2 separate regions of the Homo sapiens genome follow, and region 2 is linked to region 1. Evidence: fine-mapped expression QTL. Tissue or cell type: lung. Region 1 holds a variant in brackets; the other region holds the start of a gene. All regions are shown on one strand. Distances are between the middles of the regions.

Evidence for each region. PIP is the estimated chance that this variant, and not a neighbour inherited with it, causes the effect.
Region 2: it holds the start of SLC29A3, and the variant in region 1 is fine-mapped to the expression of SLC29A3 in lung (TOPMed, PIP 0.96).

The regions. Positions count from the first base shown.
Region 1 is chr10:72,028,965-72,037,143 of GRCh38, forward strand. No RefSeq gene overlaps it. Among named protein-coding and RNA genes, the nearest start is that of SPOCK2, 55 kb to the right of the region's middle. The variant T/A (reference allele first, on the strand shown) is at 4,202.
Region 2 is chr10:71,314,237-71,322,415 of GRCh38, forward strand. It overlaps SLC29A3 (solute carrier family 29 member 3), which reads left to right and starts at 5,023. Exons shown (of 6, transcript NM_018344.6): 1 at 5,023-5,074. The coding sequence starts at 5,074. It overlaps LOC124902445 (a long non-coding RNA gene), which reads right to left and starts at 5,427. Exons shown (of 2, transcript XR_007062183.1): 1 at 5,326-5,427; 2 at 3,733-4,668. RefSeq lists a silencer at 4,820-5,269.

The DNA.
Region 1 (8,179 bases):
AGGATACATTTCTGTTAACAGAATTTTAGCATCAAAGAATATCTAGGCTGGGTGTGGTGGCTCACGCCTGTGATCCCAGCACTTTGGGAGGCCAAGGCGGGTGGATCACCTGAAGTCAGGAGTTCGAGACCAGCATGGCCAACATGGTGAAACCCCGTCTCTACTAATAATACAAAAATTAGCCCGGTGTGATGGTAAATGCCTGTAATCCCAGCTACTTGGGAAGCTGAGACATGAGAATCACTTAAACCCAGGAGGCAGAGGCTGCAATGAGCCGAGATCGCGCCACTGCACTCCACCCTGGGCGACACAGTGAGACTCTGTCTCAAAACAACAACAACAAAAATCTACATTTTAGTATCTCTCAATTCATGCTGCCAACTAATGTTCTTTTTGTTGTTGTTTTTGTTTTTAAAAAATAATAGACATGGGGTCTCCCTATGTTGCCCAGGCTGGTCTCTAACTCCTGGGCTCAAGCAGTCCTCCCACCTGAACCTCCCAAAGTACTGAGATTACAGGCCTGAGCCACTATCCCAGCCTACCAACCAATGTTCTGAAATGGTTGTACAAATGACATTCCTGCCAGTTGCATATTTGAATGCCTATTTCACAGTTCCTGCACTAGTACAGGAGGCAAGGGAGTATACGCTTTCTGTCCCCCAGCCATGCCCTTTGAACCACTCTGGACTTGAGCTGCAGCTGGGCAGTCTCTCCTGTCCCCACTCACAGCTTCCCCCTCTCAGGTGCCAGTAACATCTCCCAATTTCCTGACCCCAGACTTTCTCCAAAGCTCCAGAAGCTTACTCAGCTCTCATGCAGGTGAAGTGTGGCAAGGAGTTAGTGCCCCAAGGAGACGAGAGATGCTGAAACACACCTGGGTGTTTTTTATTTGTTTGTATTGGTTTTTTTCCCTTTTATTTTCAATTGACATATAATAATTGTATATATTTATGGGATACAGAGTGGTGTTTTGATAAGTGTTGGTTTTGGTAGTGATTTATAAAAGAGGAATAACTGAGTCAACTGGAGCTATTTTTGAGGATAGAGGTGAGGACCAGATAATAACAAAATAACAATAGCAATTATTTGTTTAACACCTACTCTGTACCAGATACTGTTTCGCTGTTGACGTAAAACAATCTTGGCCAGGCGTGGTGGCTCACGTCTGTAATCCCAGCACTTTGGGAGGCTGAGGTGGGCGGATCACCTAAGGTCAGGAGTTCAGCCTGGCCAACATGGTGAAACCCCGTCTCTACTAAAATACAAAAATTAGCCCAACCTGGTGGTGCTCACCTGTAATCCCAGCTACTCGGGAGGCTGAGGCAGGAGAATCACTTGAACCCGGGAGGCAGAGGTTGCAGTGAGCCGAGATTGCGTCATTGTATTCCAGCCTGTGCAACAGAGCGGGACTCCTTCTCAAAAAAAGCAAAACAAAACAGAAACTAAACAAAAATAAAACAATCTCTCAGCAACTCTGCAAACTAGATTATTTTATTATTCCCACTTTGCAGATGAGGAAACCAGGGCTTGGAGGTGTAAAGTAACTTGCTCAAGGTCTTGAAGTTATGAGGCTGAAGCAATACGGCTTGAACAAAGACTGAGCCCCACCTCGTCTGAGGTGGCGGAATATGAGGAACATGGTCTTAGGAGGGAGGAAAGAGTGGATGATCCGAAATGAATCCCAGTTTCCCCTACAAAATATGAGGGTCATGTGCAGGGAACCCTGACCAGTCCTCCTGTGAGTGTGTGTGTGTGTGTGTGTGTGTGTGTGTGTGTGTATTAGGATGGATGGGACAAAGTGATACATTACAAAAAGCCGGGAGAAGGAGCTTGGTCCAATGCTAACCGGCGCCATGGGAGTGAGGCTCCTATCTTCCTACAGAGAGTGGGAGCAGGGGCCCTATCTTCGGGGCTTGGCTGGAACAAACAGTTCTGGCGGCAGCCTTGTGTTTGTTCTCTCGGGCAGGCAGCTTAAGGGGAGGCAGGGTCATCCTGGACTGCGGCCTTGAGCTGTTGCAAACACTGCCTCACCTCCCGCCTCACCCCACGCAGTGCTGGAACTCTGGGCAGGGGGACAATGGTGGGTCTGTGAGGGTGTCAGGTTGTCAGGAACAAGGCTGGTGGCTTTGAGCAAGTTGTGCAACCCCTTCCAGCCCCAGGTACTCATCCTTCCAGTGGAGGATGTCACGGCTGCCTTCACAGGAGATGGAAAGATCAGCCCCTCTCCCAGCTTCTTGTGGTTCATTTGCCTGACTCTCCTGAGCCTCCGCTCAACTCCTCCCCATTTCCTTCTTCTCCCAGTTTTTTTGTTTTTGTTTTTTTTGTTTTGGGGGTTTTTTGTGATGGAGTCTCACTCTGTCGCCCAGGCTGAAGTGTAGTGGCGCAATCTCGGCTCATTGCAGCCTCCGCCTCCCGAGTTCAAGCAATTCTCGGGCGTCAGCCTCCCAAGCAGCTGGAAATAGAGGTGCCCACCACCACACCTGGCTAACTTTTTTTTTAATCTGAAAAGCCAGTAAAAATGCTGAGAGGTCCCTCTGCTACCAAGGTATGTGGGCACGTGGAAGGGGTCAGCTGCCTTGTCCAGATGCTGAGGGGCTGGTAGAGAGAAACATCAGCAGATGGGAGGGCTGCTACTGTCCCACAGAGAAGGGCCAGCTTGAAGCCATGGGCTTAGGGACCCAATGTTTGGGCTGACTGTTGTTAAGAACACAGTTTTGACGTTCCCCTGAGCTGAGTTCCCGTCCCGGCTCACAGTGCTTCCCTGGCTGGGCAACCTGGGGCTTGTGATTGTCCCTTTCACAGCCTCAGTTTTCTCAGCCCTGAACGTTGTGAATGTTGTGAGATTTGAATGAGATAATGCAGACAGAGCTTAAAAAGAGGCCGGATGCAGCAGCTCGCACCTGTAATCCCAGCACTTTGGGAGGCCGAGGCAGGAGGATCATTTGAGGACAGGAGCTGGAGACTAACCTGGGCAACCTAGCGAGATCCCATTTCTATGGAAAATTTAAAAATTAGCCCGGCGTGGTGGCATATGCCTGTAGTCCCAGCTACTTAGGAGGCTGAATCGGGAGGATCACTTGAGCCCAGAACATCGAGGCTGCAGTGAGCTGAGATGTAGCCACTGCACTCCAGCCTGGGCAACAGAGTGGTACCTTGACTCCAAAAAAAGGCGGACAGGAGGGCTTAGAAAAGAGCTTGGCATGTAGAAAGCCCTCCAAATGTTAATTTATAATTATGGCAGGGATGAATTTCAAAATCATAAAGTGCTCACAGACAACAAGCTGCCTTGTCCACAGAGATGGCTGCAATTCCTCTGGAATACTGGGGGAGGGTGAACAGTGATGACTAAATCCCCCTCCTCTCAGGCCCCAGGACTCCAGGGCAGCACTCTTCTTAGCCCTGGGTGTGTGGGGGGGTAAAGCATGGGACCCTCCTTCCAGTCCCCACTGCCAGCCTCCCTGGCCCCCCAACACCCTGTCCTGCTCTGTGCCAGGAGGCTGCTCACAACCCCCGGAGCACCTTATTCCTGTGACTGGGCCGAAAGACGAGGCTGGGCGCAAGCCCGGAGCCCAGTGATGTGTCACACGTGAATCTGTCACATGTGAAGACACAGAAACAGCCCCTTGGCTGTTACTAAAGGGAAAAGAGGCCAGCAAGGTGACTCACACCTGTAATTCCAGTGTCAGAGGCATGTGAACCAGAGCAGCTCCATCTTGAATAGAAGCTGGGTAAAATGAGGCTGAAACCCACTGGGCTGCATTTCCGGATAGTTAAGACATTCTAAGTCACAGGATGAGACAGGAGGTCAGCACAAAATGCTGGTCATAAAGACCTAGCTGATGAAACAGCTTGCAGTAAAGAAGCCACTAAATCCTACCAAAACCAAGATGGTGACGAGAGTGACCTCTGGTCATCCTCACTGCTACACTCCCACCAGCGCCATGACAGTTTACAGATGCCATGGCAACATCAGGAAGTTACCCTATATGGTCTAAAAAGGGGAGGCATGAATAATCCACCCCTTTTTTTTTTAGCATATCATCAATAAATAACCATAAAAATGGGCAAACAGCAGTTCTCAGGGCTGCTCTGTCTATGGAGTAGCCATTCTTTTATTCCTTTACTTTCTTAATAAACCTGCTTTCACTGCACCGCAGACTTGCCCTGAATTCTTTCTTGCACGAGATCCAAGAACCCTCTC[T/A]TGGGACATGGGGTGGGGACCCCTTTCCTGTAACATTGGCACTTTGGGAGGTCAAAGTAGAAGGATAGTTGGAGCCCAGGAGTTTGAGACCAGCCCTAGCAACATAGCAAGACCCCATTTCTACAAAGAAATTAAAAAATGTATTAGCTGGGAGTGGTGGCATGAACCTGTAGTCCCAGGTACCCAGGAGGCTGAGGCAGGAGGATCGCTTGAGCCCAGAAGGGCGAGGATGCAGTGATCTGTGATCGTGCCACTGCACTCCAGCCTGGATGACAGACCTGTCTCAAAAAAATAATAATAAAAAGAAAAAGGAAAGAAAAGAAATGCTCCTTTTCCAAACCTTTCCCCTGAAGAGAGCCTAGCCTTAGACTCTGGCCCGTTCCCTCCCAGGCACTCCAGACTCTTGTGTCATGGGATGACCCCCCCCCCCACACACACACACACCAGCCCTGTGTCTCTCCCTGGGTGCTTTTCATCCCCGTATTAATTCTCCAACCTTTGTTGGTGAATCCTCCCCACTCCCCGCATATGATCTCTCACATGGGGCTTTAACTGATTTTAAAAAATAACATGAACAAACAGTGAAACTAAAAGCACAGCTATGTTGAAGCCTGGTCCTCTAACCTAGTTTCAAATAATAATAATGATAATGATAAATACAGCTATTATTTATTGTGCTTTGTTGGAAGGACATTAGACAATAATTCAACATTCACAAAAATCCTGGGGTAGGTATCATGATCACCTGCATTTTACAGATAGGAAACTGAGTCATGGAGACATTAAGCCACTTGCCCAAGATCACACAGATCAAGGGAAGATTGTATAAAGCCCCTTCCCACACCAGCTGCCGCTTCCCGACTGCAGAGGCTCAGGGTGCTCTCTCTGTCCTCAGAGGCTTGTGTAACCATCTCTGTGCCCCGTTGCCCGGCCTGGACATTCTTGCTTTCAGGCGTGGGCACAGGGATCCCTCCAGTTGGCCACAGGCAGGAGCATTCTGAGTGAAATGCCAAGCCTGACTTAGAAAACTCTGCCCCAGACAGCAGCCCGATCATCCGCCACTGGTCGCCTTCCTGTGTTTATTCTGAGGCCACCATGCCTGACAAAGGCCCCTTGTCCTGTCCAAGAAGGGGACAGATTTTTAAGGACATGGATTGAGGATATGGGCTATTTATTACCAGGACTGGTTCCCTCTCCCGGAGGCGTAGGAGTTGCTGTCACGGTCTGTGTGGAAGTCGATGCTGGCCTTGCCGCCCCCTCCCCTGCTTGCTGGCCCAGCTCCCTGCCCACACTCAGATCCACCTGACAGTTTCCTCCACACACACATGCACGTGTGCACAGCTTGCCAGGGTGCAGGGCAAAGCGAAAGGGTATCTCCTGAGTCTATAATGGCCTATAGGATTCCTGCACACCTAAAGTCATTTGCAAAGTGGTGGTGCATGTGGACATGTGTGTGTCAGTGTCGCATATGCAGGACAGACTACAGAAGTTGCAGGGCCCGGGGCAAAATGAAAATGTGGCACCCCTTGTACAAAAGCATTAAGCATTTCATGATGGCAACAGCAGAGCATTAAACCAAAAATGGGGCTTTTGTGAATTTGGGGTCCTGTGCAACTGCCCAGGCCATATGCCCAGGAAGCAGGCCCTGCACACACATGTTGTGTTTACACCAAGGCACTTTTCTGGTTAAAGGGCTCCAGGCTTCCATTAGAATCTCAAAGGGTGGCAGCACAGTGGCTAACACCCATAATCTCAGCCCTCTGGGAGGCTGAGGTGGGCGGATCACTTGAGGTCAGGAGTTTGAGACCAGCCTGGCCAACATGACAAGACCCCATCTCTTCTAAAAATACAAAAATTAGCCCTGTGTGGTGGCACATGCCTGTAAACCCAGCTACTCCAGAGCTGTACTCTTGTGCCTCAGAATCACTTGAGCCGGGGAGGCAGAGGTTGCAGTGAGCTGTGATCGCACCACTGCACTCCGCCTGGGTAACATAGTGAGACTCTGTCTCAAAAAAAAAAAAAAATCTCATAGAGGTCCAGGATACTCCAAAGGTTATAAACCATTTAGTAGCAGAAGGTCAGTGTCAGACAGGCCTGGGTTTGAGTCCCAGGCACGTTACTTATCCCCTGCAGGACTGGACTAAGTTCTGTGCCCTTCCGAGCCTGTTTCCTGGTCTGTAGAAGGGGGATTGTCATAACACTGACCTCCCAGTGCAGGAGAGATGGGAGCCAGCTCGATACAGTATGTGGCATGTTTCAAGCTCCCAGTCAGTGGTTGGTTAGTTAACCTTTAGTTAGGTCTGTTCTGCTTGTTATTGTGTGATGTCACCTAGAAGTTTCTAAATCCTCCTGCCAGTTTAACCTCAGCTAGCTGTGCCTTCCGTGGATGTCCCCAGCAGGCCCAGCACAAAGCATGGCAGGAGCTCTCGGGGACCCGAGTTGGCGTTTCTGTCACCTGGTCTGCTGTGAAAAGGGGTGGGCTGCACAGGCTCAGCTGGCCTCTTCCTCCGGCCCTGAGCGTTCGTTGGCTGACCTGACGGATCTGCTGTGCAGTATCTGTACTGTAAGAACATGTGACGGGGCAGCAGCCTGAGAGGACCTAGGGCTGGCGGATGCAGGGTTCTAGGCTGAGCTCAAAGGGTCTGGGCCCCTACCTGATAGCTTCTGAGTCAGTGTCACTCTGGACAGAGCCTTTTTCCAAAGCAGGACACCCAGGAGAGGGTTCTCAGGAGACCTGGGGCCCAGTGGCCCTTGGTGGCTGTATTTCCCCTCCAGTGTGGTAGCTCCTCAGGGGTCTCTGTGCTGCCTCCCCAGTTGTCCCCACTGGGTCTGCTAGCATCACAGGGAGAAGCCCCCTGTTACCTAGTCACCCCTTCCCTCCTTTCCCCAGCCTGATCTCCTAGTCCCTCCCCTCCTCTTTCAGGGCAGAGACTCCCAGTGGAGAGGAAGGAGGGGGACACCAGGCTCTAGGGCCTGAAAGGAGGGGCTGAGACGCCTGGTGTGACCTCACCTTGGGACATTACAGCCCCTCGGGCCTCCATTTCCAAGGCTGTAGCGTGCAAGTGAAGTCTTCGCTTCTGCCCCGGGGAAGCCCTGCCCTGTGCATCCAGGGAGGCTTTTCCAACACACACAATGTGCATTTCTTTTCTTTCTTTTTTTTTTTTTTTTTTTTTGAGACAGAATCTTGCTCTGTGGCCCAGGCTGGGGTGCAGTGGTGCAATCTTGGCTGACTGCAACCTCTGCCTCCCAGGTTCAAGCGATTCTCATGCCTCAACCTCCCAAGTAGCTGGGATTACAGGCGCAAGCCACCACGCCTGGCTAATTTTTGTTTTTTCAGTAGGGATGGGGTTTCACCATGTTGTCCAGGCTGGTCTTGAACTCCTAATTTCAGGTGATCCACCCGCCTCGGCCTCCCAAAGCGCTGGGATGACAGGCGTGAGCCACCGTGCCTGGCCACGCAATGCGCATTTTTGAACTGATGAGAAATGGAAAGAACCAAAGGTCCACCACGAGGGGAGGGGCAGACACATGGCTGGAGAGTCCTATTATGAAAGGTATGCAGCAGTCAGAAGCTAGGTGGGCTGACAGAGAAAGGTGTCCAGGAATTTTTTGTTTTGTTTTGTTTTTTTGTTTTTGAGGCAGAGTCTCACTCTGTGGCTCAGGCTGGAGTGCAGTGGCACGATCTCGGCTCACTGCAAGCTCCACCTCCCGGGTTCATGCCATTCTCCTGCCTCAGCCTCCCAAGTAGCTGGGACTACAGGTGCCCACCACCATACCTGGCTAATTTTTTTGTGTTTTTAGTAGAGACGGGGTTTCACCATGTTAGCCAGGATGGTCTCGATCTCCTGACCTCGTGATCCGCCCGCCTCAGCCTCCCAAAGTGCTGGGATTACAAGCGTGAGCCACTGCGCCCGGCTGAAATATTTTTAAGTGAAAAATGAAAATTGCAAAACAACACATACAGTATAAATAATTTAT
Region 2 (8,179 bases), 710 kb before region 1:
TGCCACTGCACTCCAGCCTGGGTGACAGAGCAATACCCTGGCTCTTAAAAAATAAATTAGTGATGTGGAAGCAGAGAAGTTATGAGTCCGTAGTTATGGCTTTATCACCATAACTACTAACCCTATCTCTCAGAATCCTCGTGCCTCGCACGGGTATCCAGTAACCCTGGAAAGAAAGACCGTAGTGAGTGAGTGACCCCAATCTGTGAGCATTGCACTGATAGAGAAGTTCCACGAGATGGCAGCATCGGCCCATGAGCCTTATGCCTGGCGCTCTCCGCTCCGCCCGTCGCACCGCCCCCCCGCCCCAACGCCCCGCACCCTCCCCCAAAAGGAGCCTGTGAAAAATATTCTGACTCTTCCTGATTGTTATGTCGCCTGCAGGTCAACAGACCCTGGGGAAGAGAAGAAGAGGAGAGCCTGTAGGGCTCCAGTCTTAAAGATGAGGGCTTGTGTGACCCCCACTCCCAACCACTTTTCATGGAGTCTCCTGGGTGGGTTCTGGAGGCAGAAAGGCAACCATGTGAATTTTGGCTCTGCCGCTGACTAGCTGTGTGACTCTGAATGAGGTACTAACCTCTTTGTGCCCCAGTTTCCGCATAAGCTAAACGGGGCTGACAATTGCACCGACCTCATGGTGTGTGGTGGATTCTACGGGATGGGGGCGGCCGTCAGGGGGCTGGAGGCAGAGCGGGAGCTGTGTCCTCTGGCTCACCGTCTTTAACAGCAATCCATACACCTACTCTGTGCCTCCTAGAAGGCTGTTAGGTTGTTATTCTCACCCCCTTTACAGATGAGAAAACTGAGGCTTGACTTCGTAGGGCCACATAAAAAGCATCCTAGCCCAGGTCTGTCTGGCTCCAGGGCCCAGTTCTGACCACCAAGCCAAGAGGCTTCCCTATCGGCCACCCTGGCCAGCCTTGGCATCTCATCCTCCAGTTCCCTGGGCCTGGAGCTGGTCCTCTTGTGATACTGGGATGGCTTCTGCCAGCACTCAGAACCTTTCAGGGCATTTCCAAACCAAGGAGAAACAAGGTGCTTTTTCTTTTCTTTTTCTTTTTCTTTCTATCTTTTTTTTTTTTTTTTTTGAGACAGAGTCTCGCTCTTGTTGCCCAGGCTGGAGTGCAGTAGCGCAATCTCGGCTCACTGCACCCTCCGCCTTCCTGGGTTCAAGCAATTCTCCTGCATCAGCACCCCGAGTAGCTGGGATTACAGGTGCCCACCACCATGCTCAGCTATTTTTTTTTTTTTTGTAGTTTTAGTAGAGATGGGGTTTCACCATGTTGGCCATACTGATCTCAAACTCCTGACCTCGTGATCTGCCCGCCTTGGCCTCCCAAAATAATCGCGCTTGGGATTACAGGCGCAAGCCACTGCGCCCGGCCAGGGTGCTTTTTCAAAGGATTAAGGATTGTAAAATGTCGATCCAGTGGAAAGTGCTTTGGCCATTTGGAGTTTTCCTTCCTTCTCTTCTCCTTCTTATCCTCCTCCTCTTTTTCTCCTCATGTATAAGAATAAAGATGCCTAATGGATGTAGTACTTTACCATTTACAAATATTTTCCCTGACCTTCTCCAACAATACTTGAGCACAGATGGTTGTTGTCATTGAATCCACTCGGTTGCAATGCCTCATATGCCCCAGCCAGATACAGAGTTGGGAGCTATCAAGGCAGAAAAGCATGGCCACTGCATTCCTAGACACAGATGGGGTTCAGGACACACTACCGCAAACTTATGACTGTAGGAGACCAGACCAGAATAGGCCACCCAAAATATGGCTCCTTGGCATAAGAATAATTCTGAGCTGGTTATTTTGAGAAACTGCAGACACAGGAGAAGCTCTAAGAACAAAAGGAAAACTTACCCTTTGAAAGAGAAACTTACATCTTTAAAAGAAATCATACATCAGGGTGTCTCCCTGTCTGCACCAGGAAGAGAAAGATGTCTCTAATCACTAGAAACACCAATGGAGAAGGCATGGACTTCAGTCTGCAAGACCAACCTTCCCCTTGTTGACTAAGCTTTTCCTGCCCACATCCCCACAGCTGGGCCTTCTTTCTTTGTTTCAGTTGAAGATGGCATTTAAGCCTGAACTCAAAGCCGTGGTTTTTGGAGATTTACTTATTTCTCTGAGTATTTCCCAAGTGCACATGACATATACACATTACTAAACTTCTGTTTGTTTTTCTCTTCTCAATCTCAAGATTGTTTCAGGTGTCTACCCTACCTCATGAAGGCTAGAAAAAATTACCTTTCCGCTCCTATAGCACTTATCAAAAGCAATGTTCAGGATAACTTCAGGCAAGGGACAGGAACCCAGCCAATTTCTGAGGCCTGCCCACCCCAGCCTCCCCATCCCTCCCCTCCCTGGAGTCCGCTGCTATGAAGTAGGTATTGTGAAAACACTTTTATTCTGTTTCCTCTCTACTTCCCTTTCTTGACCCAATCTCCCTCTTTTCTGATCATCTGTCAGGGTAAATGTTTTTATTACCTGGTCACTGAAGGGCCTGCTGGTCAGGGGCCAGGGCAGACTCAGAGCTCAGGGCTCTGGACCCCCATTCTCCTGTTCCTTCCCTGATCCCCCAAAGCCTCAAACATTCCCTGGGAAGCTGTGTGCCCAACAGTACCTGACTCATCTTGTCCCCAAGCTAGACATTACCACCGCCATCCGCCTAGATCCTGGAGGAGAAGACAAGCCCACATTGTCCGGGAAGCAGCCCCACGGATGCATTAGCAACCTGTTTCCTCCCACGGCTTTCTGCTTTCATGATGGAGGCCATCCCCAGAGCCCCTTCCTGAACTCAGCCCTAGCAACCAGCAAATCCCCAAGTGGCTGGCGCCTCCTCCATTTGGAGAAAGACCTCAGCCTCAGAGCTCTGGAAGAGGGCTCCTGGCACCTCTGATTCTCTAAGCAGGTGTCCTGAAACTGTCTCACTCACTCACATACATGCACATTCTCCAAAGATAAAGATAACAATGACTACAAACAACTCAGGACTCTGCATGAAGTAAAAGCAATCAAGTGACAAAGCACCGGAGCTTCACAGACATGGGTCATGGTCTTGGGGCTGGACCAGAAATAGCCCTGATCTGCTGCCCTCACTGAATCCTACGGCTTTGTCCCTCGTGCTGTCCCAGCTCCCCTCAGCCTCACCTGCCTGCCTGTAACCGGGCATGACAAAAAGAGCCTTGGCTCTGGGTTCTGCCACTCCATCACTGCCAGCTGTGTGCCCTGGGAAGCCACTTGACCTCTTTGAGCCTGGCTTTCCTCATCTGTAAAATGGGGACAACAGTCCCATTTCACTGGGTACTGGGGTGGGGGGGTGGAATCAAATGGGAGACTGTTCATGAAAATGCTCTGTATATTAGAGGATTTTTTTCCAACGTAAAGAGGCTAAAAATAAGGCCTGATGACTAAACTAACATATACACTATCACATTTTGGGGGTGGGGAGTGTCTTCCTTGGAAGTGATGGAAATTTGCATTGAGTGCCTGGCATGGATCACCTGACTTAATTCTCCCGACAGTCCTAAGCCGACCCTGGGTTTCAGAGAGGTTTAGTAATTTTACCATTATCCCTCAGCTTGTAAGCCTGGAGCTAAGCCCCTTCCTCTCCTGGGCCGGGGGGCTTTCTGACAATTTAGGGTGCTAGTCTCCAAACTCGCCTGCTGGTGGAGCTTGTTAAATAGATCCATTCTGGATCCCCATTCTGCACCCCCTGAGTGATGGGTTGTATTAATCCAGGTATTTATTGAACACAAATTATGTGCCCACGATGAGGGAAGAGCAAACAAAGCAGATACAGCACCACCCTCAGGGATTGGGGAGTGGCAGCAACCCTCCTGGGGAGAGGTCCCCAGAATCTGGATGTGTACTCGAGACTTTTATGATCAGGCCAGTGTTTGGGGAATGGTGGTTATAAAATGAGAGGCTGGGGCAGGGAGTGGGGATGTTCTGAGAACCTGTCCACACACTGACAGCCTCAATGGGTTCTGTGGCACCCCTGAGCCCTGGGATGGCAACTGCAAGAATTTACTATCCATGGTCACAGATCTTCAGGCCCTGTGAAGCATCCAGATCCCCGCTCTGAATAGGCCAACTGGGCCAGGACCGGGAGTCAGGAAGGTTTCCGCCTTTTTTTTTTTTTTTTTTTTTTTGAGATGGAGTCTTGCTCTGTCGCCCAGGCTCCAGGCTGGAGTGCAGTGGCACCATCTCGGTTCACTGAAATCTCCGCCTCCCGGGTTCAAGCGATTCTCCTGCCTCAGCCTCCCACATAGCTGGGATCACTGGCACGCACCACCATGCCCGGCTACTTTTGTATTTTCAGTAGAGACGAGGTTTCGCCATGTTGGCCAGGCTGGTCTCAAACTCCCGACCTCAGGTGATCCGCCTGCTTCGGCCTCCCAAAGTGCTGGGATTACAGGCGTGAGCCACCGCGCCCGGCCCCTGCTTTCTTAAAGAACACGCGGCAGCTGTGTGTTACACGCTATGGCTGAGGTCAAGTGTGAGGGCTGGAATTGCTGACTGCCATGTTCTGGGTCTACTGAAAATAGCTGCCTGGCCTGGGAGGCCCAGTTCAGTCCGGGTGTGGGTCCCGCTTCACCTCCAGAGCAGCGGCAGCCGGTAAGGGTAGAAGCGGCCTTTGGAGAGGGGTCTCTGCAGCGGCCTGGGGACAAGATGAGGGCTCCTTTGAGTCCTGGGGTGCAGGTTATAGTAGCTAAAGGGGAGGTCTGAGACAGTGGGGTCTGGCTCCAAGGTAAAGAAGGAGCAGCAACCAAAAGGCCTGATGCGCAGCGCACCCATCGCAAGCATGGGCAGTGCGTTTAAGACTGGGTGACTCACTTTTTCTCCTATAAAATGGGCGCACGCAGGCCCCAGCTCAGCGCCAGAAGGGGGAGCCCCGGCGCGCCGGCAGAAGACAAAGGAAAAAAGCGTGTTTGCAAACGGGGAAGCGGCGGCGTGCTGCCGCGAGGGGCGGGGCGGGGCCGGGGGAGGAGCCCGCCTGCCGCCTGCCAAGCCCAGTGGTCCTGGCCGTGCGCCGGAGGCAGCGGCGGCGTGGCGCAGCGGCGACAGTAAGTGCGGGCCGGCTCGGGCTCTTCCGGCTACGGTCCCGGCCGCCCCCAGACTCGCGCTCAGCGACCTCCCTCCCGGGCCCTGGGGGCGGCTGCGGGCTGCCAGGGGAGCCGCAGGACCCTACCCCATCCGTGGTCCCTTCCCCACCGTCCCTCCTCTCTCTCCTTGCTCTCTGCCACCCCTCTTTCTGGGTCTCTATCTTCTCTTCCCCAAATCCTCTCCCCTCCTCCTCCCTGAGACTGGACCTCACCGCCTGTATGGTGGGGGCCTGGTATGGACCCGTCGGCCCGAAGTATCCAGACGGTGGCTGATTCTCTCGGTCCCAGCTGCGGGGCCTGAGGCTGGGGCTGTTTACACCGCAAAGCCGGTTCTGCCGCGGCCAGTAGGCGGTGCCCTGCGCTTCCCAGTGCCTTCCCACAGGTTAGCCCTACCAGCTCCCCACCCCGGTTCACAGCCCAGGAGATCGAGGCACAGAGGGGCGAGCCACCTAGCCAGAGTCAGGAACCTCCTTGGAACCAGCACCCAGGCTTCCCAGCCCAGATGAGGTTTTGCCGCGGCCCCAGCAGTGCCTGCCTCCTTGTGTGGGGCTGTCTGTCTGTGCATGGCCGGGCTCCCGCAGGTGACCCAGGAGCACGTTCCAGGCCACAGCCAGCTTGTTTTGGGGAAGGTTGGGCACTTCCTTGCCTGCCTTTCTCTTTATTTTTTAATCCAGAAGCCAGCAGCTAGCTTTTATAAAGACTAATAAGACTTTGCTCACTCCAGTGCCCTGGCCTGTGACCCTGGTTAGAGAAAATTCCTGGCTCCTTCTTCAGAAGCTCAGTCAAGCCTTGACAAATAGACGCTAGGAACTGAGAAGGGGGCCCTAGCCAGGTGTGGTCCTGAGTGACAGGGCTGGTGGACCTTCTAGCCGCCCCCACAGGTAGCTGGAGCCTCTGGAAAGAACCACTTGCCGGTTCTCTCTTGTTCTATGTGGGTGGGTCATGATTATTTTTTACATTTTAAACACTAATTTTTAAAATGTAACAAGTGAGCTTGTTACATTTGTACCATTTTGTGCCAGACAAAATAGCATAGACTGGGTGGCTTAAACAAAATTTGTTTCTCATGGATCTGGAGGCTGGGAAGGGCAAGATCAAGGTGCTGGTTGATTTGGTTTCTGATGAGGGCTCTCTTCCTGGCTTGCAGACAGCCTCCTTCTTGCTGTGCCTTCACATGGCTTTTCCTCTATGAGTGGGTGCATGTGGAAAAAGCGATTTTCCACACAGTGAGCTTCCAGACAGTGAGCTTGTTAATGCTGGCCTCCATGCGAATCCAGGCTGGGGAGGGGCTCTGCTAACCAGGGGAGTTTAAAATAGACTTGCTGGCTGGATGCATTGCACTTGGGCATCCAGTGGCCCCCCACCTGCTGGCTCCAGGGTACATGCTACCCCAGCAGGGGAGAATGTCCTGGTCGTGCAGAGTCCGTTCATTCAGCAAACATTGACAAGGGTGCCTGCAGTGTGCCTGGGCCCCTCCCGACTCACTGGCTTCAAGGCTTGCAGGAAGGATGCCTGTACTTGGAACCAGCAGACACAGATTCCCATTCCCAGCCAGTCCTCCCCGGTGTGCTGAGGAGTCCAGCATGGGCCCCAGTCTGCTTGGCTGTGTAACTTCACTCTTGTCATCTACTAGTTATGTGACCCTGGGCAAGTTACTCAACCTTTCTGAGCCTCAGACCCCTCTGTGAAATGGGTCTTAGAGTAGTACCTAATATATTAGGCTGTTGTCAGCCTCAAGTGTGACCTCTGTTAGGCACAGACCTTGGCATTTGTGATCACTGGACTTAAGTTTAGCTATTGGGAGTTCTTTCTATTTGTGGGACATAGCAAGTGCCTTCCAGACCTCAGTTTTTCCATCTGAAAAAAGGGGGCAATGTTTTCTGCCCTGCCTAATTCCAAGGGATGCTCTGAGGTTCTCCTGAAATAGTGGATAAGGTTCTGCACCCATGTGAGGAGGTGTTCCCATCCCACCAGGGAATAAAGGCCCCAGTCTTCTTGGTACGATGCTTTGAGTTAGGCTTAGCCTCCTATAGAAACCAAGATGCATTTATTTATTAGTTTATTGGGTGGGGAAGAGGCTACTGCAGAAGGGACTCTGAAGTGTCCCATCCTCAGCATTTTGGAGACATTTCTCATTTATCAAGCTGCTGCCACATCCTAGGTGCTATGTAGAGCAAAGAAGCAGGCATGCTACCTTACAGCCAAATTCAGCAGCCAGCCAGCCAGCCATGCGACAGGCCCAGGATGCCAGGGAGATGCTGACATTTGTTCAACAGCTGCTTATAGGCCAGGCATTGCCAGCCAGTTGCAGTTGCATAACTATCATAAAAACAGCTTCTCTGGGTTTACATTTGGGGAAATTGAGGCACAGAAATGTGGTAACTTGCCCAAGGCCATGTAGGCAATAGTTGCTGGCAGCCTAGGCTCTTCCATTTATCTTAGGCGCTACCATAGATTGAAAGTGGCTGGCTCCTTGTAGGGTGTGATGAGCAGAGGTGGGACCCAGGCAGGAGCTGCAAACCCAGGCTTGGCCATTTACGTGGCCTATGGCCTTCAGTTCTTTGGACCTCTCTTTCCTCACAAATGAAATGGGAATGGACTGTCAGAGGCTACACACCAGCTTCTGGAGGCAGCCCTGGACACTACCAGTTTTTTAAACAATTATTACTTAATTTGAATTTTTTTAAATTTACACTTTTAATTTTGTTTTTGAACCGGTAATAAACTAGTCACATAGTTCAAAATTCAAGAGACACAAATAAGAATGCAGGGAAGTCCCCCTCCCCGCCCCCCACCATCCCAGTTTCCCTCCTTAGAGACAGCCACTGTTAGAAACTTCTTATGTAGCCTTCCAGAGATATTCTGTGCATATACAAATACATATGTGTATGTATATTTTCTCTCCCCACTTTTTTTACACACATAGTAGCATATTCTACACACCATCCTGCTCCTTATTTCTTTCACCTGAAATCGAAAAGGGTTTAGAGATCATTCTTTGCCCATTAAGGGTCCTAATTCTTTTTTATGGCTGCACAGAACTGTGAATGCCCTTAGACCAGGTTT